7 linked regions of the Homo sapiens genome follow. The protein of the gene in region 1 purifies or fractionates together with the protein of each later gene. This does not show direct contact. Each region holds a gene or a part of one and is shown in the gene's direction. Other genes may lie near its edges. The genes, in order: PCDHB3, CNNM3, SEMA4G, SEMA6B, EPHX4, AXL and EPHX1.

Region 1 (4,274 bases):
CTTAATTCTTAATGTTACTCAGTCTATCTTTATATTTTTATATCATTTTTACATACATTTGAATGAGCTATCCTATTAAAATTTTAATATTAACTTTGAAGGTCTTGTTTTGAGATTAGCAATGGTGTAGAGCGCTGTGTTGGTATCAAAAGTCTCTGATCAACCAACTCATTACCTGTAGGATTTTGGATGAGTCACAAAGTTTCTTTTCTTCTACCCAAATGATAGCAGGTATTTGAATAGCTTGCAGTTATACTCAATATAAAGACATAAAAGTGAAATTGCTGTTATTTTTAGTATCACTAGTATTAAGAGCAAACATTCTTGATAATTGTGTAGAAGTACAAAAGCGGCTACATTGAACACATATTTGCACTGTTTTATTTCTGTACCAACAACCTTGCAATGGCTTCCTTTTGTTCTTAGAATAATAAAATCCAAGCGCCCATTATTTGGCCTTGGTTTACCTTTTCAGCCTTCCTTTCCACTTACTCTTGAGACATTAAGTTTTGTATTCACTGTACTTCATTCATTATCTATTAATAGCTATGCTTTGCTCTCTCAGGGCCTTCACACATTCTACAGTCTTAGCCTGGCACACTTCTCCTATTTCATGTTTCAGATTAAATGGTGCACCTTGGGGGAAACTTTCTTAATCACTCTCCATTAAGTTAGGTCCCCGTATTGCATACTTTCAGTGCACTCAGTACCTTTTCTATGTAGCACTTTTCACACTGTTTAAACATCTGTTTAAAGACTGTACACCCACTAGATGGAAAATTGTTGTAAGATATACAGACATTGTCTTGTTACCACCACTTGCCTAACTTCTACAAACTCAACAATTATCTGTGGAAATAAACTAATACAGATGAAATGAATAATTGTAAATTTGCTCTGAAATAAGAAGAGAAAGCACTTTAAGTGTTCCTTGAGCATGATAATCTGGAAGAAATTAGGTATTTGTAGTCCTCTGGATCCACCTCTGACATGATATATTTTCTTTTTTACCACCTTGCAGGAGGTGTCTTTTCCTTGTGTTTTTCTGGTATATGCAATTCGGGCTCATTTCACAAAGTTTAGGAAAAAAAGAAAAACATAAATAGGATAGTGAAGCATGCTATCATCTAGAGCAAAAATCTTTTGAAGTTTGTGTGTAATTATTACAAAAGGGGAGGGGTAAACTAGTATGTGTACACTTCCGTTAAATCGTGTAAATGAGGACTCTACCAGGAAGAATCGCTGCTCGTAGATAAAAGTGCATTTTATTTCCCTAGATTGCATTTATTTAATTCATATAACATGAGAAACTCCTCCAGTAGCGTCAACTAGGGTTGATAAGAATAATCGATAAAGCAAAATAAAAACACCTTCTCCAAGATTTTGTAACTGCAAGCGAACGCATGGTGGCGCTGTTGACTAAGAAGGCGAATTAAACCACAGGCATTGTGCATGCTCGGTGACGCACGGATCCAGTGTGGTAAACCAGCGGTTGAGAGCCCAGGCAGATTTTTGAGCCAGCAAGTCTGAGCCTCTGGAAAGGCTTATTCACTAGGCCGTCTACAAAGGTTGTGGGGCAAAAGACTGTTTCCCAGCTCTGTCTGAGGTTCAGCTTGGCGACATTCCCTGGAAGAGCGTGACGGAAAGTGCAATGGAGGCGGGAGGAGAGCGATTTCTTAGACAAAGGCAAGTCTTGCTTCTCTTTGTTTTTCTGGGAGGGTCTCTGGCTGGGTCCGAGTCAAGACGCTATTCTGTGGCTGAGGAAAAAGAGAAGGGCTTTTTAATAGCCAACCTAGCAAAGGATCTGGGACTAAGGGTAGAGGAACTGGCCGCGAGGGGGGCCCAAGTTGTGTCCAAAGGGAACAAACAGCATTTTCAGCTCAGTCATCAGACAGGTGATTTGCTCCTGAATGAGAAATTGGACCGGGAGGAGCTATGCGGCCCCACAGAACCATGCATACTACATTTTCAGATATTACTGCAAAACCCTTTGCAATTCGTTACAAACGAGCTCCGTATCATAGATGTAAATGACCATTCTCCGGTATTCTTTGAAAATGAAATGCATCTGAAAATCCTAGAAAGCACTCTGCCAGGAACAGTAATTCCTTTGGGAAATGCTGAGGACTTGGATGTGGGAAGAAACAGCCTCCAAAACTACACTATCACTCCGAATTCCCACTTCCACGTACTCACTCGCAGTCGTAGGGACGGAAGGAAGTACCCGGAACTAGTACTGGATAAAGCGCTCGATCCGGAGGAGCAGCCGGAACTCAGCTTAACGCTCACCGCGCTGGACGGCGGCTCTCCCCCTCGGTCTGGGACAGCCCAGATAAACATCCAGGTCTTAGATATAAACGACAATGCACCAGAATTTGCACAGCCGCTCTATGAGGTTGCAGTTCTAGAGAATACCCCCGTTAACTCTGTCATTGTCACTGTCTCGGCTTCTGACTTAGATACAGGAAGTTTTGGGACAATATCATATGCATTTTTTCATGCTTCTGAAGAAATTCGCAAAACTTTTCAGCTAAATCCAATTACTGGTGATATGCAACTGGTCAAATATTTGAATTTTGAAGCGATTAATAGTTATGAAGTCGACATCGAGGCCAAGGATGGCGGAGGCCTATCCGGAAAGTCTACAGTCATAGTCCAGGTGGTTGATGTCAACGACAACCCACCGGAACTGACCTTGTCTTCAGTAAACAGCCCTATTCCTGAGAACTCGGGAGAGACTGTACTGGCTGTTTTCAGTGTTTCTGATCTAGACTCTGGAGACAACGGAAGAGTGATGTGTTCCATTGAGAACAATCTCCCCTTCTTCCTGAAACCATCTGTAGAGAATTTTTACACCCTAGTGTCAGAAGGCGCGCTGGACAGAGAGACCAGATCCGAGTACAACATTACCATCACTATCACTGACCTGGGGACACCCAGGCTGAAAACCAAGTACAACATAACCGTGCTGGTCTCCGACGTCAATGACAACGCCCCCGCCTTCACCCAAATCTCCTACACCCTGTTCGTCCGCGAGAACAACAGCCCCGCCCTGCACATCGGCAGTGTCAGCGCCACAGACAGAGACTCAGGCACCAACGCCCAGGTAACCTACTCGCTGCTGCCGCCCCAGGACCCGCACCTGCCCCTCTCTTCCCTGGTCTCCATCAACGCGGACAACGGCCACCTGTTTGCCCTCAGGTCGCTGGACTACGAGGCCCTGCAGGCGTTCGAGTTCCGCGTGGGCGCCACAGACCGTGGCTCCCCGGCTTTGAGCAGCGAGGCGCTGGTGCGCGTGCTGGTGCTGGACGCCAACGACAACTCGCCCTTCGTGCTGTACCCGCTGCAGAACGGCTCCGCGCCCTGCACCGAGCTGGTGCCCCGGGCGGCTGAGCCGGGCTACCTGGTGACCAAGGTGGTGGCGGTGGACGGCGACTCGGGCCAGAACGCCTGGCTGTCGTACCAGCTGCTCAAGGCCACGGAGCCCGGGCTGTTCGGCGTGTGGGCGCACAATGGCGAAGTGCGCACCGCCAGGCTGCTGAGCGAGCGCGACGCGGCCAAGCACAGGCTGGTGGTGCTGGTCAAGGACAATGGCGAGCCTCCGCGCTCGGCCACCGCCACGCTGCATGTGCTCCTGGTGGACGGCTTCTCCCAGCCCTACCTGCCTCTCCCGGAGGCGGCACCGGCCCAGGCCCAGGCCGACTTGCTCACCGTCTACCTGGTGGTGGCATTGGCCTCGGTGTCTTCGCTCTTCCTCTTTTCGGTGCTCCTGTTCGTGGCGGTGCGGCTGTGCAGGAGGAGCAGGGCGGCCTCGGTGGGTCGCTGCTCGGTGCCCGAGGGCCCCTTTCCAGGGCAGATGGTGGACGTGAGCGGCACCGGGACCCTGTCCCAGAGCTACCAGTACGAGGTGTGTCTGACTGGAGGCTCCGGGACAAATGAGTTCAAGTTCCTGAAGCCAATTATCCCCAACTTCGTTGCTCAGGGTGCAGAGAGGGTTAGCGAGGCAAATCCCAGTTTCAGGAAGAGCTTTGAATTCAGTTAAGTGTTAATAAGGATCTACTGAGCCTCGTCTTAGTTAATCTGTGGAAAGTCCTTTTTTACTGCTTTGTCCATTGGAGAGGTCTTTTTTGGTCTGGTTCAAGGCAAGTAGCAAGAATAGAGCAAAATATCAAATCCAGGGATGGCTTAGGTTTCATTAACAGTACTGGAAAGTAGTTGTGTGGCTCTGAATGTTTTGTATTTCAATCGAGAATCCTTAGTCGATAGAACATTTT
Region 2 (3,500 bases), on another chromosome or scaffold:
AGTGGCGCATTCATGGCTTACTGCAGCCTCAACTTCCCAGACTCAAGTGTTCCTCCCACCTCAGCCTCCTGAGCAGTTGGGACTACAGGCGCATGCCACCACACCCGTCTAATTATTTTATTTTTTTGTAAAGACACGGTCTCTCTATGTTGCCTAGGCTGGTGTTGAACTTCTGGCCTTAAGTGATCCTCCCGCCTCAGCCTCCTAAAGTGCTAGGGTTACAGGTGTGAATCACTACATCTGGCCTAAATTTAAAAAAGTTTTTAGTCTACATCCAGTGACCTATCAGGGATGCTTGTTATTTTATACAAGCTGCTTTGTTATCATATCAGCATTCTCTTCAGCCAGCTCCAAGGCAGATAGTCACCCCTCTCTCTGTGTGGTTGGGGTGGGAGCAGGCCCCGTGGAGGGAGCGGTGCTGAGGACATGTCCCTGGCGTTCCGATGCTGCTCCATCGAGGACCCCCTGGCCTCAGGAGGAAGGAGCAGGCGATGCAGCCCCTTAGTGTGGTCGTGTTGACTGACAGGTGGCTGATGCCTGAGCGCGCCCTCTTCTTCCATCTTAGGAGACACCGTGGTGAAGAGGAAGCCTGCTTCTCTGATGGCCCCTCTGAAGCGGAAGGAGGAGTTCTCCTTGTTCAAGGTGTCTGATGATGAATATAAAGTAACAATCTCGCCTCAGCTGCTCTTGGCCACCCAGCGCTTCCTGTCCCGAGGTGAGGCGGGAGGGTGGTCCATGCCCCCTGCTCTCCTCACCGTTCTGTGGGTCAGGAGGCCGCCCAGGGCCGACACTGACTCTGCTCCCCACTCCTAGCAGGCGGGTGCGTCTTGAGGACTTCTGTGTTCTCTGCAGCCCTGCCAGCATCTTGGGTCATGGGAGAGACACCTCCTCTCTGCCAGATGACCAAGAGCAGGGCCAGGCCAGTGCCACGCCTGGTGCACCACAGCCAGGGGGCCTCAGCTCTCAGCTGGGCGGATGTGGGGTGCCCTGCCCAGTTCTTTTTTTTTTTTTTTTTTTAAAGATAGGGTCTCGCTCTGTCACCCAGGCTGGAGTGCAGTGGCACGATGTTGGCTCACTGCAACCTCCGCCTTCTGGGTTCAAGTGATTCTCCTGCCTCAGCCTCCCAAGTAGCTGGGATTACAGGCGTGTATCACCACGCCCAGCTAATTTTTGTATTTTTAGTAGAGGCGGGGTTTTGCCATATTGGCCAGGCTGGTCTCCAACTCCTGACTGCAGGTGATCCACCTGCCTCAGCCTCCGAAAGTGTTGGGATTACAGGCGTGAGCCACCGCACCTGGCCCCTGCCTAGTTCTCTTGTGTTGAGGTGTTAGGGGCAGCTGCTCACAGGCCACCCGGGAGATCCCTGGTGGGCACAATAACTTTAAATTGCCTACAGTGTTGGGTGTGGTTCCACTGGCCACTAGGCCCCAGTGGACACTGTCCCTTTTTTCCACCACGTGCAGAAGTGGATGTATTCAGCCCGCTGCGCATCTCTGAGAAGGTCCTGCTGCACCTGTTGAAGCATCCCAGTGTCAACCAGGAAGTGAGGTTTGACGAGAGCAACCGGCTGGCCACACACCACTACCTGTACCAGCGCAGCCAGCCGGTGGATTACTTCATTCTCATCCTGCAGGTAGCTGTGGGTCCCAGGCCTGGAGTCCCTCCTGCTTCCTCAGGCCAGGGAAGGGTCTAGGAGAAGAGGGGAGCAGGGGCATGCGGATATGCACCCTCCCACCCCAAACAATTGAGGTGGTGGGTTTCTCCTTCCGCTGTCTTCTGACGGGAAAGGTAATCTGGCCGCATCTGTTTCTCTCCTTGCCACTCCTCCCAGGGCAGGGTTGAAGTGGAGATCGGGAAAGAGGGTCTGAAGTTTGAGAATGGGGCCTTCACGTACTATGGAGTGTCGGCCCTAACTGTGCCATCCTCGGGTAAGCCACGGCCCTGCTGATGCTGAGGGCCAGGGTGGAGGCTGCAGAGCCTGTCCCCCATCATCACTTGGGCTCTCAGTGCCCCTCCTCACCTCTCCTTCCACCTGAGCCCACCACCCCACAAGGTGGTGTAGCCCCTGGGCTTCCAGGAGGGAGGGCAGCATTCTTCATCGCTCAACTTTGTGGCCCACTCCACCCCTGCAAAACCTCTCCCGGCTGTGTTTGTCCTTCTCTCCCAGCTTCCCATGCACATTGCCTCTCCAGAGTGATTGGTGGGGTGGGTCTTCGAAACTGTACAGTTGTCCCCACCAGGGGAGGAGGCTCCCAGCTGCCAGCATGGCTCCTGCCATCACTGATTGTTCCTTTGATAGTTCACCAGTCCCCGGTGTCCTCGCTCCAGCCCATCCGCCATGACCTGCAGCCCGACCCAGGTGACGGCACGCATTCATCTGCGTATTGTCCCGACTACACCGTGAGGGCGCTCTCTGATCTGCAGCTCATCAAGGTGACTGCCTGGGCTGCTTGTGGGTGCTGGCTTTAGCCGACTTTGTGTCACCGGGGGCTAGACCAGCTGGTCTGAGACTGCCCGGAACAAGGCCTTCCACTCATCCTGAGGGACACAGACCTTTGCACCCAGTTTCCAAGCAAGGTCTTAAAAACACTTGACTCAGTTGCTCTTCTCTGCCCTTAACTAGCTTAAAGTTGTGCCTCTGTCCTCTTCGGGCACGGTGTCACCTTTCCTGCCTACCTTCTGCATCTCGCTTCACCAATTGGGTCCCAGTAACGCTGTCATCCTCCAGGTTACGCGACTGCAGTACCTCAATGCACTCCTGGCTACCCGAGCCCAGAACCTGCCACAGTCCCCTGAGAACACCGACCTGCAGGTTATTCCAGGCAGCCAGACCAGGCTCCTTGGTGAGAAGACCACCACAGCGGCAGGTGAGTGCCAAGTGGTACATCGTGCATGGTGTCTGGACCTGAGGGCCGTGAGCTCACACACACAGACTTGCACTCTCGCCGCCCCCCCACCCTCTGTCTTTTTTCTCTCTTTTCTCCCCATCCTTTTCCCTTCTTTATATATATATATCTATATATAAATAATTTTTTTTTTTTTTGAGATGGAGTCTTACTCTGTTGCTCTGTTGCCCAGGCTGGAGTACAATGGTGTGATCTCGGCTCACTGCAACCTCCGGCTCCTGGGTTCAAGCAGTTCTCCTGTCTCAGACTCCTGAGTAGCTGGGAATACAGGCGCCCACGACCACGCCTGGCCAATTTTTGTATTTTTAGTAGAGATGGGGTTTCACCATGTTGGCCAGGCTGGTCTTGAACTCCTGACCTCAGATGATCCGCCTGCCTCACCTTCCCAAAGTGCTGGGATTACAGGCATGAACCACTGTGCCCAACCCCCTTCTTGCTTTTTTTTTTTTTAATTCATTATTCAACTTGAACTTCTTGCTGTCTTTAATAGCATGGATGACACCAAACTATAGACTAACTGGTATTTAGAGTAGAGTATAGTAAGTCGGTATTTCTCTCAAGGACGTCTTAGAATGGATTGACTTAATCAGAGAT
Region 3 (3,500 bases), on another chromosome or scaffold:
AGGCAGGAAAAGCAGTGAGGAGGCTGGGGGCATCATTTGGGTCAGAGGAAGGGGCCTGAGCAGGCTTATGGAGACGGGGGACAGATGGTAGTGGCTTGTACCAGGTGAGGGAGCAGGAGGAGACACAAAGAGGCCTGTATGGATTTAAACCCTGGGTAACAGGCAAGAGGAGGAATCATTAACGTGGCAAAGGAGTCAAGAGGCTGGCAGCTGAGGGCATTTGACAGGCAGAGAAGACCAGTGTGGCTGGAGTAGGGTGAGTGAGACCAGAGGAATGGGCAGAGTCCCATCACACAGGGCTAGGAGCATGTGGGACTCTATATTCAGGTCACTGATGAGCCGATACAGTGGTGTGATCCACTTGACTTTTTTTCAGACATGGTCTCACTCTGTTGCCCAGGCTGGAGTGCAGTGGTTCACTGCAGCCTCGACCTCCTGGGCTCAAACAATTCTCTTGCCTAAGCCTCCCAAGTAGCTAGGACTACAGGTGCATGCCACCACATAGAGATGAGGTCTTGCTATATTGTCCAGGCTGGTCTTGGACTCCTGGGCTCCAGTGATCCTCCCACCTCAGCCTCCCAAAGTGCTGGGATTACAGGTGTGAGCCACCACACCTGGCTAGGTTTACATTTTTAGAATATCCCTTGGAAAGTGGTTGGAGAGTAGCAAAAGTGTGTTGTTTGGTAAAATATCTCTGGAAGGAAACTTCAGACAATAGTAACAGCAGTCTTCTTGGCAGGCAACCTGGGAGACAGGGATAAATGGGAGACTCCCTGTTTATAACATACCCCTTTGTACTTTCTAAGTTTTATACTATGTACATGTATTCATTGACTGAATAAATAGCTTTATAAAGTCGTTTTTATAAAAGAGAAGGTTGGGAGGAGCTATCAGGTAGCAACTGCAGATGTCTAAGGAAGAGGTCATGGTGGTCATTTGGACTGGGTGCTGGTGGTGGAGTCAAAGTGGACCAAGTCAAGAGACTTTTAGGACAATGAATTAATTGTGGAGAGGGACTGAATGTGGGGGTGAGGAAGTAGGAAGCAGCAAGGATGATCCCTGGCTTCTAGGTTGAGTCGTAGGTTGGATGAAGTGAGGTGGGAAAGACTGGATAAACAGGTTTAGGAAAGATGTAGGTTATGGAGGAGGGGATGAACTTGGCTTCTGACAAGGTGAGTTTGAAACATCCCTGGGATATCGGGTGGAGAGCAAGCTGGCATCTAGGGATAGATTTGGTTGTATCACCCCAGCGAGGAGGGCAGGAGTTCCAAGAATAGAAAGAGGTGCTGAGAAGGAGCTGGATGGGAGAGGAGAAGCACCTCAGGATGGTGGAATCCCTGGGAGCTCTTGAACCAGAGGTGGAGGGAACTGCAAGAGACACAGGAGATATTGGCAGAATGGTGTCAGGTAATCTGAGGGACAGAGGAGAGAAATAGGGTCATGTTACTGGGAGGCCAAGGACAGTGAGTTCCAGGAAATATTCTGGAGCAGTGAGAAGGATCACAGGTATCTTGGAAAGAACCGTTTGTCCTGTGGGTGGGGGCAAGAGCCAAACTACAAAGCTAGACTAATGGAGGAGGCTTCTAGTCAGGCAGGGGGCTCACAGCCCTCTCCACCTCATCCCACAGACGGAGTGCTTTAACCATGTGCGGTTCCTGCAGCGGCTCAATTCTACCCACCTCTATGCATGTGGGACTCACGCCTTCCAGCCCCTCTGTGCAGCCATTGTGAGTATACCTGTGTTGTGCCAGATCTCTGTTGACTTCATTAGGGATGGGATCATGTTCAAGATGCCAAAGAAGAGACTCAGAGCCAGTGAAGGAGACGGATGGTTTATTAAGGGGACTTCCATACAGGGCACTCCAGTGGCGGCGGGCTGCACTGGAGAACCATTCCCCTTTGTAAAAACCATGCAGTTTTTATAGCATTTTCACTTAGCATCCTCCCCCTAATCACCTCCACCTGGCAAACTTCATTTAACCCAAAACAAAGGGCCTTGATCCCCTGGACAGCATGTGTTCCACAGGATGGGCTAGGGGCTCAGATGTTCTTCATAGATAAGGAGTGAATCTCTAGGTTGGCCACTTGCAGATTTGGAACTCCAAACATACATTGTTTTGAGGCCATAAGGTCATTCTCAGGGGATGCTTAAGTTATTGCTGTCAGGTGCATCTGCCATACAACCTGCCCCTATCCCTGATCGCTGATCCCTGACCCCAGACTGATCTGACTTTGAGCCACTGTCCCTGCCTGTCTTCGGAACCACTTACTGCTGGTTCCTTGTTCCCTAGGATGCTGAGGCCTTCACCTTGCCAACCAGCTTCGAGGAGGGGAAGGAGAAGTGTCCTTATGACCCAGCCCGTGGCTTCACAGGCCTCATCATTGGTGAGCAGGCCTTCTTCCCTATCACAGACATGGTATTTTTAGGATGTGGATCTCATCTCTAGGACCTGCCACCATGTATATGTCATGTGCCCTGTTGAATATGACATGTCTCTCATGCCTGGAATATCCCCACGCCAGATGGAGGCCTCTACACAGCCACTAGGTATGAATTCCGGAGCATTCCTGACATCCGCCGGAGCCGCCACCCACACTCCCTGAGAACTGAGGAGACACCAATGCATTGGCTCAATGGTTAGGAGGATGAGGCACAGGATGATGGGGGGTAGGGGACTATTTCTTCATTTTTACTCCCTTGGCCAGCTGACCACCCCACCCCCAAATCCCCAGGTGAGCCTGTCCATTCCATTCCTGTGTGTTGTCAAGTGAGGGGTCAGCCTCAGAGTGAGGGAAAGGAATCCCCAGCCTGTCTCAAAAGCCTCTCAAACTGCCTGACCCACAGATGCGGAGTTTGTGTTCTCCGTCCTCGTGCGGGAGAGCAAGGCCAGTGCAGTGGGTGATGATGACAAGGTGTACTACTTCTTCACGGAGCGTGCCACTGAGGAGGGCTCTGGCAGCTTCACTCAGAGCCGCAGCAGTCACCGTGTGGCCCGTGTGGCTCGTGTCTGCAAGGTGGATTGGGCTGACGTTGGGGCACGGGTATAGAGGCTGGACCTCTGACCCTGGCCCCTTATCCCGTGCCTCTACCTCCCCAGGGAGACCTGGGAGGGAAGAAGATCCTGCAGAAGAAGTGGACTTCCTTCCTGAAAGCCCGTCTCATCTGCCACATTCCACTGTATGAGACACTGCGTGGGGTCTGCAGCCTGGATGCTGAAACCTCAAGCCGTACACACTTCTATGCAGCCTTCACGCTGAGCACACAGTGGTCAGTGCAGGGACAATCGGGAGGCAAGAAACTGCGGACAGCATAGGGGCTGGAGCAGAGGTCAATGAGGATGAGATAGGATCCACTGTGGGGAGGTCTGGCTGCAAAGTGAGAATTTTTTTTTTTTTTTAAGAGGGAGTCTTGCTCTGTTGCCAGGCTGGAGTGCAGTGGCGCGATCTCGGCTCACTGCAATCTCCGCCTCCCGGGTTCAAGTGATTATCCTGCCTCGGCC
Region 4 (3,500 bases), on another chromosome or scaffold:
AACACAGTGAAACCCCGTCTCTACTAAAAATACAAAAAATTAGCTGGGCGTGGTGGCAGGCGCCTGTAGTCCCAGCTACTCAGGAGGCTGAGGCAGGAGAATGGCATGAACCCGGGAGGCGGAGCTTGCAGTGAGCCAAGATCACGCCACTGCAGTCCCGCCTGGGCGAAAGAGCGAAACTCCGTCTCAAAAATAAAATAAAATAAAATACAAAAATTAGCCAGGCGTGGTGGTGGGCGCCTGTAGTCCCAGCTACTCGGGAGGCTGAGGCAGGAGAATCACTTGAACCCGGGAGGCGGAGGTTGCAGTGAGCCGAGATCACGCCACTGCACTCCAACCTGGGGCCAGAGGGAGACTACACCTCAAAAAAAAAAAAAAAAAAAAAGAGGTAGACAGACAGACACACACCAGGAGAACAAAGGGGGAAAGAGACAGAGAGACAGGGAGAGAGACAATCAGAGACAGACAGACACCCAGAGAGACAGAGATAGGGAAGAGAGACAAAGAGAGAAAGAGACTGAAAGATACACAGACACACATACATATCAGGAGAAAGCGGGGCTGGGCACAGTGGCTCATGCCTGTAATCCCAGCACTTTGAGAGGCTAAGACGGGAGGATCACTTGAGGTCAGGAGTTTGAAACCAGCCTGGCCAAATGGTGAAACCCTGTCTCTACTAAAAATACAAAAAAAAGAAAATCAGCTCGGTGTGGTGGTGTGCGCCTGTAGTCCCAGCTACTTGGGAGGCTGAGGCAGGAGAATCGCTTGAACCCAGGAGGCGAGATCGAGCCACTACACTGCAGCCTGGGCAACAGAGTGAGACTCTGTCTCAAAAAAAACAAAACATAAACTTGCCAGGCGTGATGGCGTGTGCCTGTAGTCCCTGCTACTCAGGAGGCTGAGGCAAGAGAATTGCTTGAACCCGGGAGGCGGAGGTTGCAATGAGCTGAGATTGCGCCACTGCACTCCAGCCTGGGTGACAGAGTGAGACTCCATCTCAACCAAAGAGACAGGGCTGAGGAGAGCCTGGTTTGGGGTTATGTTTCAAAAAAGGGCGAGTGTGCCCACGTGCCTGTGTAGTCACGCATGTCCCCGGCATCCATGCACACACGCATTTATTGCTGTCACATGTGTTGGTGTGTCAGTGTCTGTATGCACCCGTGTAACTATGGCCATGCCCGTGTTGGTGGCATGTGGTGATATGGGGCCAGCCTGACCCTCCCCTGCCCTGTCCCCCAGGCACCAGCTGACTCGAGTGGCTGTGGACGTGGGAGCCGGCCCCTGGGGCAACCAGACCGTTGTCTTCCTGGGTTCTGAGGCGGGGACGGTCCTCAAGTTCCTCGTCCGGCCCAATGCCAGCACCTCAGGGACGTCTGGGCTCAGTGTCTTCCTGGAGGAGTTTGAGACCTACCGGCCGGACAGGTAAGTCTGGGCAAAGGTGGGAAGGGGTCGCCAGCAGGAGGGGAGATGGGCTGAGATGCGCTCAGCCTCACCACTCTGCTTGTCCCCAGGTGTGGACGGCCCGGCGGTGGCGAGACAGGGCAGCGGCTGCTGAGCTTGGAGCTGGACGCAGCTTCGGGGGGCCTGCTGGCTGCCTTCCCCCGCTGCGTGGTCCGAGTGCCTGTGGCTCGCTGCCAGCAGTACTCGGGGTGTATGAAGTGAGTGTCCACCCCAGGCCAGCCGTGGGCGGGAAGCAAGGGAGGATGGGCACAGGGAGGGACAGCTGGGTTCCAGTCAAAAGCCCAATGATGTCCTGGTCATTGAGCTGGGCAGAGGGCATGGCCCGTGCAAAGGCCCGCGGGCAGGACCACTCCTGGTGTGTTGGAAGAACAGCAAGGTGGCCGGTGTGGCTGGAGCACAGTGAGCAAGGGGGAGTGAGGGAGGAGGGGAGGACGGGGAGGGGATGGGAGAGGACGAGGCAGTTTGTGCAGAGCTTTGTGAGCCTCGGGGAGGACTTGGGCTTTGACCTTGAAGGAGATGGGAGCCATGTAGGGTTGCAGGCAGAGGAGGGACTGGCCCTGACTCAGGTGCTTACAGGTGCCCTCTGGTGGCTGCTGCCAGGAGGAGACTGCAGGGGAAGGAGAACCAGGGACCAGGGTGGAGGCTGTTTCCCCGTCTCTAAAATGGGAGGAAAGCTAGGATGCATGCCAGTGCTGGCACACGCCTGCACTCCATGTGAGCCGTCAATGCGGAGGACCCTGCTTCCTGCCCGCCGTTATTGCAACAATGACCCAGTAGCTCCGAGTCCAAGGGCACAGCCTCTGGCACGATGCCTGGGCTCCCATCTCAGCTCTGCCACTTGGGCAAACATTTACTTTCTGGAGCGTCAGTTTGCTTATCTGTAAAGTGGGGAGTGAACAGTGCCCTGCACACAGATTTGTTCTAAGGACTCCAGAAGTTGCTATTAAGAAGAGGGACTGGGCTTGGTAGCTCACGTCTGTCATCCCAGCACTTGGGAGGCCAAGGCAGGAGGACTCCTTGAGCCGAGGAGTTCGAGACCAGCCTGGGCAACACAGCATAGTGAGAGCCTGTCTCTAAAAAAAAAAAAAATGCAAAAATCAGCTGGGCGTGGTGGCACACACCTGTGGTCCCAGCTACCCAGAAAGCTGAGGCAGGAGGATCACTTGAGCCTGGGAGGTTGAGGCTGCAGTGAACTATGATCATGACACTGTACTCCAGCCTGGGTGACAGAGCATGACCCTGTCTCTTAAAGAAAAAAAAAATTAAATTTTAATTTAAAAAAATTTTTTTAATTTTAAAATAAGAAAACGCCAGCCGTGGTGGCTCACACCTGTAATCCCACCACTTTGGGAGTCCGAGGCGGGTGGATCACTTGAGGTCAGGAGTTCAAGACCAACCTGGTGAAACCCTGTCTCTGATAAAAATGCAAAAATTAGCTAAGTATGGTGGCGCGTGCCTGTAATCCCAGCTACTCGGGGGGCTGAGGCAGGAGAATCGCTTGAACCCGGGAGGCGGAGGTTGCAGTGAACCAAAATCCCGCCACTGCACTCCAGCCTGGGCGACAAGAGCGAAATTCCATCTCAAAAATAACTAAATAAATAAACAACAAGAGCGAAATTCCGTCTCAAAAATTAATTAATTAAAATAAAAATAAAGAGGCAGGTGCTTGGAACAGGGCCCACAGGTCACCATCACCATTGGGGTTGTGTAAGTGACTTGGACACTTGTCCCATTCGGTCCCTGGTCTGCTCTAGGAACTGTATCGGCAGTCAGGACCCCTACTGCGGGTGGGCCCCCGACGGCTCCTGCATCTTCCTCAGCCCGGGCACCAGGTACTGCGGGAGAGGGAGGTGGGTGGAGGGTGTGTCAGACCCGCCCATGATCCCAGATCCCCCTGATCTCTGACTGTGAGAGGGGCCTCTGCTGACGGTGCCTCCTCTCCCCATTAGAGCCGCCTTTGAGCAGGACGTGTCCGGGGCCAGCACCTCAGGCTTAGGGGACTGCACAGGTGAGTTGGGGGGACGGCAGGCTAAGACCCC
Region 5 (3,500 bases), on another chromosome or scaffold:
GTATGCTGTTTATTATTTTGAGAAATAATTATTGAAAAGTTTATACTTAGAAAGTTTATTTCTTTAGAACACACACCTAAATATTCATTTTAAAATGTTATACAGATGCACTTGCATTATTTCTGTTGTATCAATCAGTTAGAACCACATAATATTGTGGAACAAACCACCCCAGATTCGGTGGCATAGGGTCATAACCATTTTTTCCTGTGCTCATGGATCTGCAGGTTAACCGTAGGCTGGACTCCTCTGGTCTTTGCCTCAGGCTGCAGGTCCAGCTGGGACTGGCTTCTCTCTGTGAGTTGGGCTGGAGCCCAAGCTAAAAGGGAGTGGCTGCCTGAGGGAAGCTTTTTTCCTGGCGATGGTAGAGGGTGAGCCCAGGTGCACAAGCTTAAGTTTCTACCGGCAGCCCATTAGTCAAAGCAAGTCATATGGTGGAGCCCAAAGTCAAGCTACATAGCCACCACGAGACCAAAGCAAATCACATGGCCAAGTCTAAAATCAAAGGGGCAGCAAGTAGACTACTGTGACAGCAGGGAGAAGGGGAAAGTAAATATTTTTTAACAATAATCCAATCTATTAATACTATATCCCTTTTGACTGAAACCAAGCTGCTACCATCAGTATGTTAATGGAAGCAATATAGTGAGAAATACCATGAAATCAAAGGCACTTTCTACAGTAATCTAATGAGAGCATGGATCAGGCCAATATTTTTAGGGGAAAAAAAATGAATGGGGTCTGGGGGTGTCACATACAATATTGTCATTTAGTCTGATTACAGTAAAAGAGACTCAGACACTGATTTTGAACAATTATATTTCAAATTTTGTGATAATTCAGTCAGACCTGGCCTAAATTTGTCATCATGAAATTTTTAGGCAAATAATTAATATAAACAAGATTTATGCATGTGTGTTTATGTCTACGTGTGTGTATTAGTATAGTAGTGAGGAGTGATGGTGAGAATTACTTCCTTGAAAGAATTAAGCAATTTTAAGTACTCCAGGAATAAATTACAAATGAATTTTATGCATCCATACAATGGAAATCCTGTAGGAATCTCTATTAATCAACATTTTAACGTACTTTAAATTAACCGAGTGATTACATGAAATGAAACTGGTGCAAAATTGGTGCTATAATTAAGACTTTCCATTACTTCAGTTTGACTTCACAGTTCCAAATTAGTGACAGATTTTCTGTGTTGAATTGTACATAGGATTTGTGAAGTTAGGGAAGAGATAGATGCTTCCTGGAAATAAAGATTTATGAGGTTGGACATAGATGAGACATTTATAATTTTACTATAACTAGAAATTTCTGAGCATTCAAAAAAAAACCAAATAATCTTACTTTTGACTTCATTATGTGCAGTCTTTACCATGGTTTCCAAACTCAGGTCCATGGGACCAGAGCTGAGCAACATAAGCTATTTCAGATGTTTCTTTTGTTTCTTTTGTACCCCCCCACACTTTTTTTCTTTTTTAGAAACAGAGTCTCGGTCTCGCTCTGTCACCCAGGCTGGAATGCAGTGGCATGATCATGGCTCACTGCAGCCTTGAAGTCCTGGGCTCAAGGGATCCTCCCACTCCAGGCTCTACAGTTGCTTGTACTACAGGTGGACACCACCACACCTGGATAATTTCTTTATTTTTTTGTAGAGACGGCTGGGTGTGTGTGTTGGGGGGAGGTCTTGCTATGTTGCCCAGGCTGGTCTCGAACTCCTGGCCTCAAGCAATCCTCCTGCTTTGGCCTCACAAGTGTTGAGATTATAGGTGTGAGTCACCACACCGGCCTATTTCAGATTTTTTTTTTTTTAATATGGATTCCTGGGAGAGATTCTCAATCTATAGGTTTAGAGTGGAGCTATATAGGTGATGTACAGACAAGTTTTGGAACCACTGAATTCAATATCTGCACAAAGTGCATAATTAGGATAAGATAATGAAAAGAGGTACTTCAGAAGTATAACTATTTTATGTGAGGTAACAGTGCACCCACCTGTTTCTTTTTAATGATGTCAACATTTATTTCTTGTTTACAGGGTATAGCAAATGTGTTCTTATTGGCCATGACTGGGGGGGCATGATTGCTTGGCTAATTGCCATCTGTTATCCTGAAATGGTGATGAAGCTTATTGTTATTAACTTCCCTCATCCAAATGTATTTACAGGTGAGTTCAAGTTTTTATCAAAACAGTTCTGCTAATGTGACAATTCACTCTTGCCACTGACCTTTTGGATTAGAAACAGCAAAATTTGGTTACTATCATATTTTAAAATTAAATGACTAAACCATGATAGCACATGACAGTGTCAGATACCTTGGTTTTCAATCTTCCTGGGGAATCTAAGAAAATTTAGCTTTATACTTGCTTACATAATTTTATTCCTTCAAAAAAAGATTTTACTGTTAACTTGGGGAGGGATAAAGGGAAACATACAATGACATTGCTTTGACAGTAATGAATCCTGACAGCCTAGAAATAAATTCTCCTTTTGCTTGACTGCTTTGGCTGTCAGGAATAGCAGTATTCTTTAAAGCAGTTCTCACATTTTTTGGTCTTGGGCTTCTATATGCTCTTAAAATTATTAAAGACCCCATTGAGCTTTTACTTATATGGTTTATAAATATTCACTGTATTGGAAATTAAAATAGAAATTTAAAAATATTTATATGTTAATTCATCAAAAGAAATAAACCATTACATGTTAACATAAATAACATATTTTAAATGAAAGCTAACTACATCTTCCAAAACAAAATTTTAGTGAAAAGAGTGTCATCGTTTTACATTTTTGCAAATCTCTTCAATCTGTTGCAATATGTTGTTTGCATTGAAGTATGTGAGGAAATTTGGCCTCACACAGATCTGTAATTGGAAAAGGGAGGAGTATTTTAATAGCCTTTTCAGATAACTGTGGATTTTCTTTCTTAATACTATACCAAACTTAAAAATTAATGGTTTTGTTTTGTTTCTGTTTTTGTTTTTTTGAGATGGAGTCTCGCTCTGTCGCCCAGGCTGGAGTGCAGTGGCGCCATCTCGGCTCACTGCAACCTCCACCTCCTGGGTTCAAGCGATTCTCCTGCCTCAGCCTCCCGAGTAGCTGGGACTACAGACACCCGCCACCATGCTTGGCTAATTTTTGTATTTTTAGTAGAGACAGGGTTTCGCCGTGCTGGTCAGGCTGGTCTCAAATGCCTGACCTTGTGATCCGCCCGCCTCAGCCTCCTAAAGTGCTGGGATTACAGGCGTGAGCCACCGCGCCCTGCCAATGGTTTCTTAAAGGTAACAATGTGGAATGTGATGGCAAATAAATGATTTTTTAATACTATACTCTATTAAAACCCACAGGTCTCCCTAGCACTTTTATTGTATCTTTTATCCATGCCTGGTTTTGTATCATCATGCATTGTAAGATGTTTGTTCACTGATTTATGCAGATCTTCCATAAGTTGACACATTTCATCATACAGGATCAAAAAATCACATTCTT
Region 6 (2,522 bases), on another chromosome or scaffold:
TAGTAGAGACGGGGTTTCACTATATTGGCCAGGCTGGTCTCAAACTCCTGACCTCAGGCAGTCCGCCCACCTCAGCCTCCCAAAGTGCTGGGATTACAGGCATCAGCCACCGCACCCGGCTAAAGTATTATGTTTCTATGAATACTTGTGATGCTCCCAGAGGATGGTTGTGAACATGTGTACATAAGTGTGGGTGTACCCATGAACCTGGGTATTGGTGCGGGTGATTCTGTGCAGGAGAGACTGTCTAATTCCCTCTGCCCCTCACAGTGGTCCTTCGGGGTGACAATGTGGGAGATTGCCACAAGAGGCCAAACCCCATATCCGGGCGTGGAGAACAGCGAGATTTATGACTATCTGCGCCAGGGAAATCGCCTGAAGCAGCCTGCGGACTGTCTGGATGGACTGTGAGGACCCTTAGGTCTCCCCCAACCCAGAATTCATTCCAAACCCCTGACTACCCCCAGATGGCCCTCACAGGTCCAGGACTCTCTATAACCCAGACAGAATCCCTGAGAATGCTGAGTGACCCACTTGCCCCTCACCAATGCTCTGAGTAGGGCCATCACTAACCAGTGGGGTGCAAATCAGCTAAAGGCACCCTTTCCTCCTTTGTCTGTGTGGGCTGAATCAGCCCCCTGGCTCCCCACCCCCAAGCCAGGTATCCTTGGGTAGTGAATAACAGCACAGTCTTACCTGGCGGCCCTGCCTTTGGGACATGCACTCCCAGAGACTTCTCATTCCAGACTCCTGAGCACACCATGCTTCCCCGACATGCTCCTCAACACCTGAGACTCTCTGCAAAACCCTTCAGTTTGTTTTATTGGCCTTCTCCAGACTCAGGTCTCCTCTGAGATATTTGCAGGATCCTTCAGGGAATGCTTACCAAACTTTGCAATATTGGAGTATGCGGAGAAGGCCGTGACATTTAGCTAGCACTTTGAGGGTAAAGAGAGGATGACTTTGGGTCAGGAGGAGACAGCCTGGGGCGTCAGACTCCTCAGTCCACCTTGGGTACTCCAAGAGCTGAGACGAGTAAAAATAACAGCTAACATTTTCATATAACTGACTAGAAGGCACTGTTTTAGGTGCCTGGCATGTGTCAAATCATTTGGTCCTTACCACAGCCATGTGATGTAGATAGGTATCATTATGATTCCCATTCTGCAGATAAGAAAACCCAGTCCTACAGGGAGGGTAATTTATTTTTATTTATTGACTTGAGTCTCGCTCTGTCGCCCAGGCTGGAGCACAATGGCTCCATCTCGGCTCACTGCAACCTCCCAGGTTCTAGCGATTCTCTTGCCTCAGCCTCCCAAGTAGCTGGGACTACAGGCGTGTGCCACCATGCCCAGCTAATTTTTTTTGTATTTTTAGTAGAGATGGGGTTTCACCACCTTAGCCAGGATGGTCTTGATATCGTGACCTCATGATCCACCCGTCCCAGCCTCCCAAAGTGCTGGGATTATAGGCATGAGCCTCCACGCCCAGTCTGGGAGGGTGATTTATTTGCCAAAGATTGCACAGCTGGTGTGTTTGTTATCTATATCCCCAAATCAAGTAGTTTAAAACAACAAACGTTTATTATCTCACACAATTTCTGAAAGTTGGATACTGGGAACAGCTTAGCAGGGTGATTTTGGTTCAGGATCTCTAATGAAGTTACAAAGATATCACTGGGGGCTGCAGTCATCTGAAGGTTGGGACTGGAGGATTGCTTTCAAGGTGGCTTACTCACATGGCTGTAGCAGGAGGCTTCAGTTCGTTGCCATGTGGACCCCTTTGTGGCACTGCTTGAGCTTACTCACAACATGGCAACCCAGGAGAAAGTGCGAGGAAGCCACATGCCTTTTATGACCTAGTCTCAGAAGTCACACACACCATCACTTCTGCCAAATCAGAAGCAAGTCACTAAGTCCTGCCCATGCTCAAGAGGAGAGGATTTATTCTCCGTCTTTTGCAGGGAGGAGGGTCAAAGAATTTATGGACCTATTTTAAACCAGCACAGCTTGTAAGTGGCATAGCCAGGCTTTGATGCAAGTCTGTTCTGGGGAGCTGGAAGGTCTGTTCTAGCAAACCCTCATCAGAATACTACTCCATATACAGACAGGTTTCCCGAGACCCTTCCCAGCTCCTGAGTCTCCCAGGACCCAACTCAGAAATTCTTGGGAATTCCCAAATCCCCATAGATGGCCTCAAACTGCTGAGGCTCCCTATAACCCTCTAAAATGCCCCCAGTCCCCTGAGTGTCCTAAAATGTCCCCAGGCTTCCAGAATGCACCCCTTCTGAGTCCCTGCTCAATCTCCCACCCCTCATTTTGCTGCCCTAGGTATGCCTTGATGTCGCGGTGCTGGGAGCTAAATCCCCAGGACCGGCCAAGTTTTACAGAGCTGCGGGAAGATTTGGAGAACACACTGAAGGCCTTGCCTCCTGCCCAGGAGCCTGACGAAATCCTCTATGTCAACATGGATGAGGGTGGAGGTTATCCTGAACCCCCTGGAGCTGCAGGAGGAGCTGACCC
Region 7 (3,500 bases), on another chromosome or scaffold:
TCTCTTGCCTCAGCCTCCCGAGTAGCTGGAATTGCAGGCGCCTGTCAGCATGCCCGGGTAATTTTTTTGTATTTTTAGTAGAGACGGGGTTTCACCATGTTGGCCAGGCTGGTCTTGAGCTCCTGACCTTAGGTGATCCACCCGCCTCAGCCTTCCAAAGTGCTGGGATTACAGGCGTGAGCCACCACACCAGGCCCAAAAATACTCCACTTTAAAGAAAATATCATTTGGTAATCAGAAAAAGGTGACATTTTGTCAATGTGTATGAAAAAAATTATGCATTTAATACCTGTTCATTGTAGAAAAATTGGAAAGTACATAAAACTCAAAGAGAAATTAAAAGCACTGGAATCTACTGCTCAGGAGAACTGCTTTTTACATTCTTGGAGTTTATCCTCCCAGACTTTTAAAATTCACCAATACATAGTATAAGTACAGTATAAGCATAGATGACTTTTTATAAAAACTGGGTCACACAATGGATATGACTTGATCATTTGCTTTTACCTCCCAGCAATATCTTCTGATCAGTTTTCTATGTTAAATAAATATACATCTACCTTGTCAGTTTAGATGACTGTACTGGACTCCAGTATACTGTCAAACTATACTTGATTAATCCTGTATTGCTGGATACGTGGGGCTTTCTCCCTACCCTCCAGATTTTAAATTATTGAACAAGTATTTATGGAGGCCTGCTGTGAGCCAGGAGCTGTCCTGAGCCCTGGAAACCCAGCAGTGGCTGTACAGACCTGGCCCAGCTGTCAGGGGGCACCTCTAAGGAAACCGGGAGGCAATAATCGTAGCTCCCTTGCAGGGAGGTTGTGAAGGCTGAGTGAGGACATCTGTGCACCTGGAGCACAGTGTGAGTGTGAAACCAGTGTCAGCCCTTATTACTGTCAATACCATGAAGGGGCGGCGGGGGCACTAAGGGTGGCAGGACTCAATATCTAGGCTCTGGGGGGTGCCAGAGCCTGACCGTGCAGGGTCTTCTCTCTCCCTCCACCCTGACTGTGCTCTGTCCCCCCAGGGCTGGACATCCACTTCATCCACGTGAAGCCCCCCCAGCTGCCCGCAGGCCATACCCCGAAGCCCTTGCTGATGGTGCACGGCTGGCCCGGCTCTTTCTACGAGTTTTATAAGATCATCCCACTCCTGACTGACCCCAAGAACCATGGCCTGAGCGATGAGCACGTTTTTGAAGTCATCTGCCCTTCCATCCCTGGCTATGGCTTCTCAGAGGCATCCTCCAAGAAGGGTACGGGGCTGCTAGAGGTTCCATAACTGCCCCGTCCTCGCCAAGGGTGGGCCCGGTGTTCCCACCAGGCTCTCCTTCCGGCGGGGTGAGCAGGGAGTTGGCCCGAGGAAGCTGGGAAAGGAGGGGCCTGAGAGGCCGGCCCCAGACACACCGCCCTCCGGGGCTGGAGATGCCACCCCTATATTTGGGCTCCAGGATTCCTTCTTGCCTCTGTGAGCTTTTCTGACCTCCACCTGGGGGTAGGCGGGCCTGAGAAATTTCATAGAACACCAGAGGGCCCAAGGAGCAATCTGCCTGTGACTCCGTGACTCCATGCCTTTCCCCATCACTGCCAGGGTTCAACTCGGTGGCCACCGCCAGGATCTTTTACAAGCTGATGCTGCGGCTGGGCTTCCAGGAATTCTACATTCAAGGAGGGGACTGGGGGTCCCTGATCTGCACTAATATGGCCCAGCTGGTGCCCAGGTGAGGTCACTGTTGGGGTGGTGTGTGTGTGTGTGTGTGTGTGTGTGTGTGTGTGTCCTCTAAGAAGTGGACCTGTGTGCAGGGTGGGCCAAGGACCCCCCAGGGGAGAGGAGGGAGTGTGACCTGTCACTCAGCAGTGCCTGAGGCACGTTGACTTGGATCCTCCTGTCTGTAACCCAGGGTTGCGGCTCTGGGTCAGGTTCCCAGGCAGAGAAGGCCTGTGATAGGAGGGGAAGGTCAGGCATTAGACCTCTCTGCTGGACCAAGCTCTGGGATAGCCCTGAGCAGAACTCCCCAGAAACTGTATTTTTCCCCCAACCTCCCTTCTCCAACTCCCATGGCCTCCCCAGTGGGGCCAGTGCTGAAAGAGGCTGGCTCTGTGCTCGCTCCTCAGCCCTGAGGCCTGTTCCTCCGCCATCTCTCCTCTCTCCCTGTCCTTGACACCAGCCCAGCCTCACCCCGGCCCCTCTCTCTGCCTTCAGCCACGTGAAAGGCCTGCACTTGAACATGGCTTTGGTTTTAAGCAACTTCTCTACCCTGACCCTCCTCCTGGGACAGCGTTTCGGGAGGTTTCTTGGCCTCACTGAGAGGGATGTGGAGCTGCTGTACCCCGTCAAGGAGAAGGTATTCTACAGCCTGATGAGGGAGAGCGGCTACATGCACATCCAGTGCACCAAGCCTGACACCGTAGGTGAGTGTGCTCAGGGGTCCTCGCCCACTGCCGGCTCCACTGGGGCAGGGAGACACCCGCGGGGTAACCTCACCACCCCACCCCAATGCTGCCCACAGAAGGAAGCCTCTTGTAAGGACCTCCCAGCTCTTTAGATCTTTAAACTGCATTTTCCCATAGAATCAAGAGGATGGACCCTCAGCAGATTCCCAGGCCAATTTAGCAACTCTGTTTAGCCGACTCAGTATTCATAGTGGCTTTCACCCCTGATCTCCCACCCCTGAGTCTATATCCTACACTGAGAAGCAGAGGGATGGAGGGGGTGAGGTAGGAGGAATCCTGGGAGTGGGCAGCTCTGGGGCTGCAGGGGAGAGGGGAGAGGGTGCCCTGGGGCCTTGGGGAAGAGGTTCCCAGGCAGTGAGGGAGGGCCCAGCAACCATGTCTGCCACCAGGGTCCTGTTAAAGGACAATACTTTTTCAAAAAGGTAAATTTATAAAGGAACCAGTAAAATTTTAAAAAGAAACAATTCAAAGACAAATAAGAACACTGAAATTAATTTGCTAACAGACACAAAACTTGTCAACATCCACAGAGTAATATCAATTAAATCTCCATGGGACAAAATTCATTTGCCTCTATGAACAAGAGTCATTCGCATTACCCTCAGTTCTTTACAATTCACAGAACTGTAAAATAGCTCAATGACAAGGAAAGATGGGACCCCTGTAGCATCACGTCAGTCCGGAAGGTCTGCTAGGTAACTCCCTAGATCTTGTCCAGAAGACACCCAGGAATTGTCTTGCCCATCTCAAAGTTCTTCATAGTTTTCATGGCAAACCCATGCCCACACACACGAGGCAGCTCATAATCATAATAATGGCACTTTATAAAAGTCAGCATTTTTCTCTGATTATAAAATACATGTTGTCAAAAAGCTTAAAAATGCAAAAAGTACAAAACATTAAAGACAATCTCATATAACCTCTTCTCCCTCCCCACATCCCCTCTCCTTCAAAAGAACTTGTGAACATTTTGGTGAGAATTTTCACAAGTGAAGTACGTCCATATCACCAACATGGCCCCAACACTCCAGATGCCCCTCGGGG

Evidence for each region.
Region 2: the proteins of PCDHB3 (region 1) and CNNM3 purify together in Homo sapiens (affinity purification with mass spectrometry; one large-scale study listed by BioGRID and IntAct). This does not show direct contact.
Region 3: the proteins of PCDHB3 (region 1) and SEMA4G purify together in Homo sapiens (affinity purification with mass spectrometry; one large-scale study listed by BioGRID and IntAct). This does not show direct contact.
Region 4: the proteins of PCDHB3 (region 1) and SEMA6B purify together in Homo sapiens (affinity purification with mass spectrometry; one large-scale study listed by BioGRID and IntAct). This does not show direct contact.
Region 5: the proteins of PCDHB3 (region 1) and EPHX4 purify together in Homo sapiens (affinity purification with mass spectrometry; one large-scale study listed by BioGRID and IntAct). This does not show direct contact.
Region 6: the proteins of PCDHB3 (region 1) and AXL purify together in Homo sapiens (affinity purification with mass spectrometry; one large-scale study listed by BioGRID and IntAct). This does not show direct contact.
Region 7: the proteins of PCDHB3 (region 1) and EPHX1 purify together in Homo sapiens (affinity purification with mass spectrometry; one large-scale study listed by BioGRID and IntAct). This does not show direct contact.

What each region holds. Positions count from the first base shown.
Region 1 is NC_000005.10:141,098,999-141,103,272, forward strand, and holds the start of PCDHB3 (protocadherin beta-3 precursor), read left to right. Parts: upstream 1-1,474; 5' UTR 1,475-1,651; coding exon 1,652-4,042; 3' UTR 4,043-4,274. UniProt on the Homo sapiens protein: Potential calcium-dependent cell-adhesion protein. May be involved in the establishment and maintenance of specific neuronal connections in the brain.
Region 2 is NC_000002.12:96,826,268-96,829,767, forward strand, and holds part of CNNM3 (metal transporter CNNM3 isoform 1 precursor), read left to right. Parts: intron 1-565; coding exon 566-715; intron 716-1,463; coding exon 1,464-1,633; intron 1,634-1,831; coding exon 1,832-1,928; intron 1,929-2,299; coding exon 2,300-2,433; intron 2,434-2,728; coding exon 2,729-2,867; coding exon of another isoform or gene 2,868-3,025; exon of another isoform or gene 3,026-3,500. UniProt on the Homo sapiens protein: Probable metal transporter.
Region 3 is NC_000010.11:100,976,004-100,979,503, forward strand, and holds part of SEMA4G (semaphorin-4G isoform 1 precursor), read left to right. Parts: intron 1-1,628; coding exon 1,629-1,727; intron 1,728-1,816; exon of another isoform or gene 1,817-2,291; coding exon 2,292-2,385; exon of another isoform or gene 2,386-2,523; coding exon 2,524-2,637; exon of another isoform or gene 2,638-2,814; coding exon of another isoform or gene 2,815-2,845; coding exon 2,846-3,015; exon of another isoform or gene 3,016-3,098; coding exon 3,099-3,268; coding exon of another isoform or gene 3,269-3,369; intron 3,370-3,500. Other genes in the region: MRPL43 (large ribosomal subunit protein mL43), read right to left, coding at 2,815-3,008. UniProt on the Homo sapiens protein: Cell surface receptor for PLXNB2. May play a role in axon guidance.
Region 4 is NC_000019.10:4,546,185-4,549,684, reverse strand, and holds part of SEMA6B (semaphorin-6B precursor), read left to right. Parts: intron 1-1,239; coding exon 1,240-1,422; intron 1,423-1,511; coding exon 1,512-1,658; intron 1,659-3,215; coding exon 3,216-3,293; intron 3,294-3,410; coding exon 3,411-3,469; intron 3,470-3,500. UniProt on the Homo sapiens protein: Functions as a cell surface repellent for mossy fibers of developing neurons in the hippocampus where it plays a role in axon guidance.
Region 5 is NC_000001.11:92,043,485-92,046,984, forward strand, and holds part of EPHX4 (epoxide hydrolase 4), read left to right. Parts: intron 1-2,047; coding exon 2,048-2,176; intron 2,177-3,500.
Region 6 is NC_000019.10:41,257,223-41,259,744, forward strand, and holds part of AXL (tyrosine-protein kinase receptor UFO isoform 1 precursor), read left to right. Parts: intron 1-270; coding exon 271-407; intron 408-2,330; coding exon 2,331-2,522. UniProt on the Homo sapiens protein: Receptor tyrosine kinase that transduces signals from the extracellular matrix into the cytoplasm by binding growth factor GAS6 and which is thus regulating many physiological processes including cell survival, cell proliferation, migration and differentiation.
Region 7 is NC_000001.11:225,837,624-225,841,123, forward strand, and holds part of EPHX1 (epoxide hydrolase 1), read left to right. Parts: intron 1-1,030; coding exon 1,031-1,258; intron 1,259-1,593; coding exon 1,594-1,723; intron 1,724-2,205; coding exon 2,206-2,414; intron 2,415-2,932; exon of another isoform or gene 2,933-3,500. UniProt on the Homo sapiens protein: Biotransformation enzyme that catalyzes the hydrolysis of arene and aliphatic epoxides to less reactive and more water soluble dihydrodiols by the trans addition of water.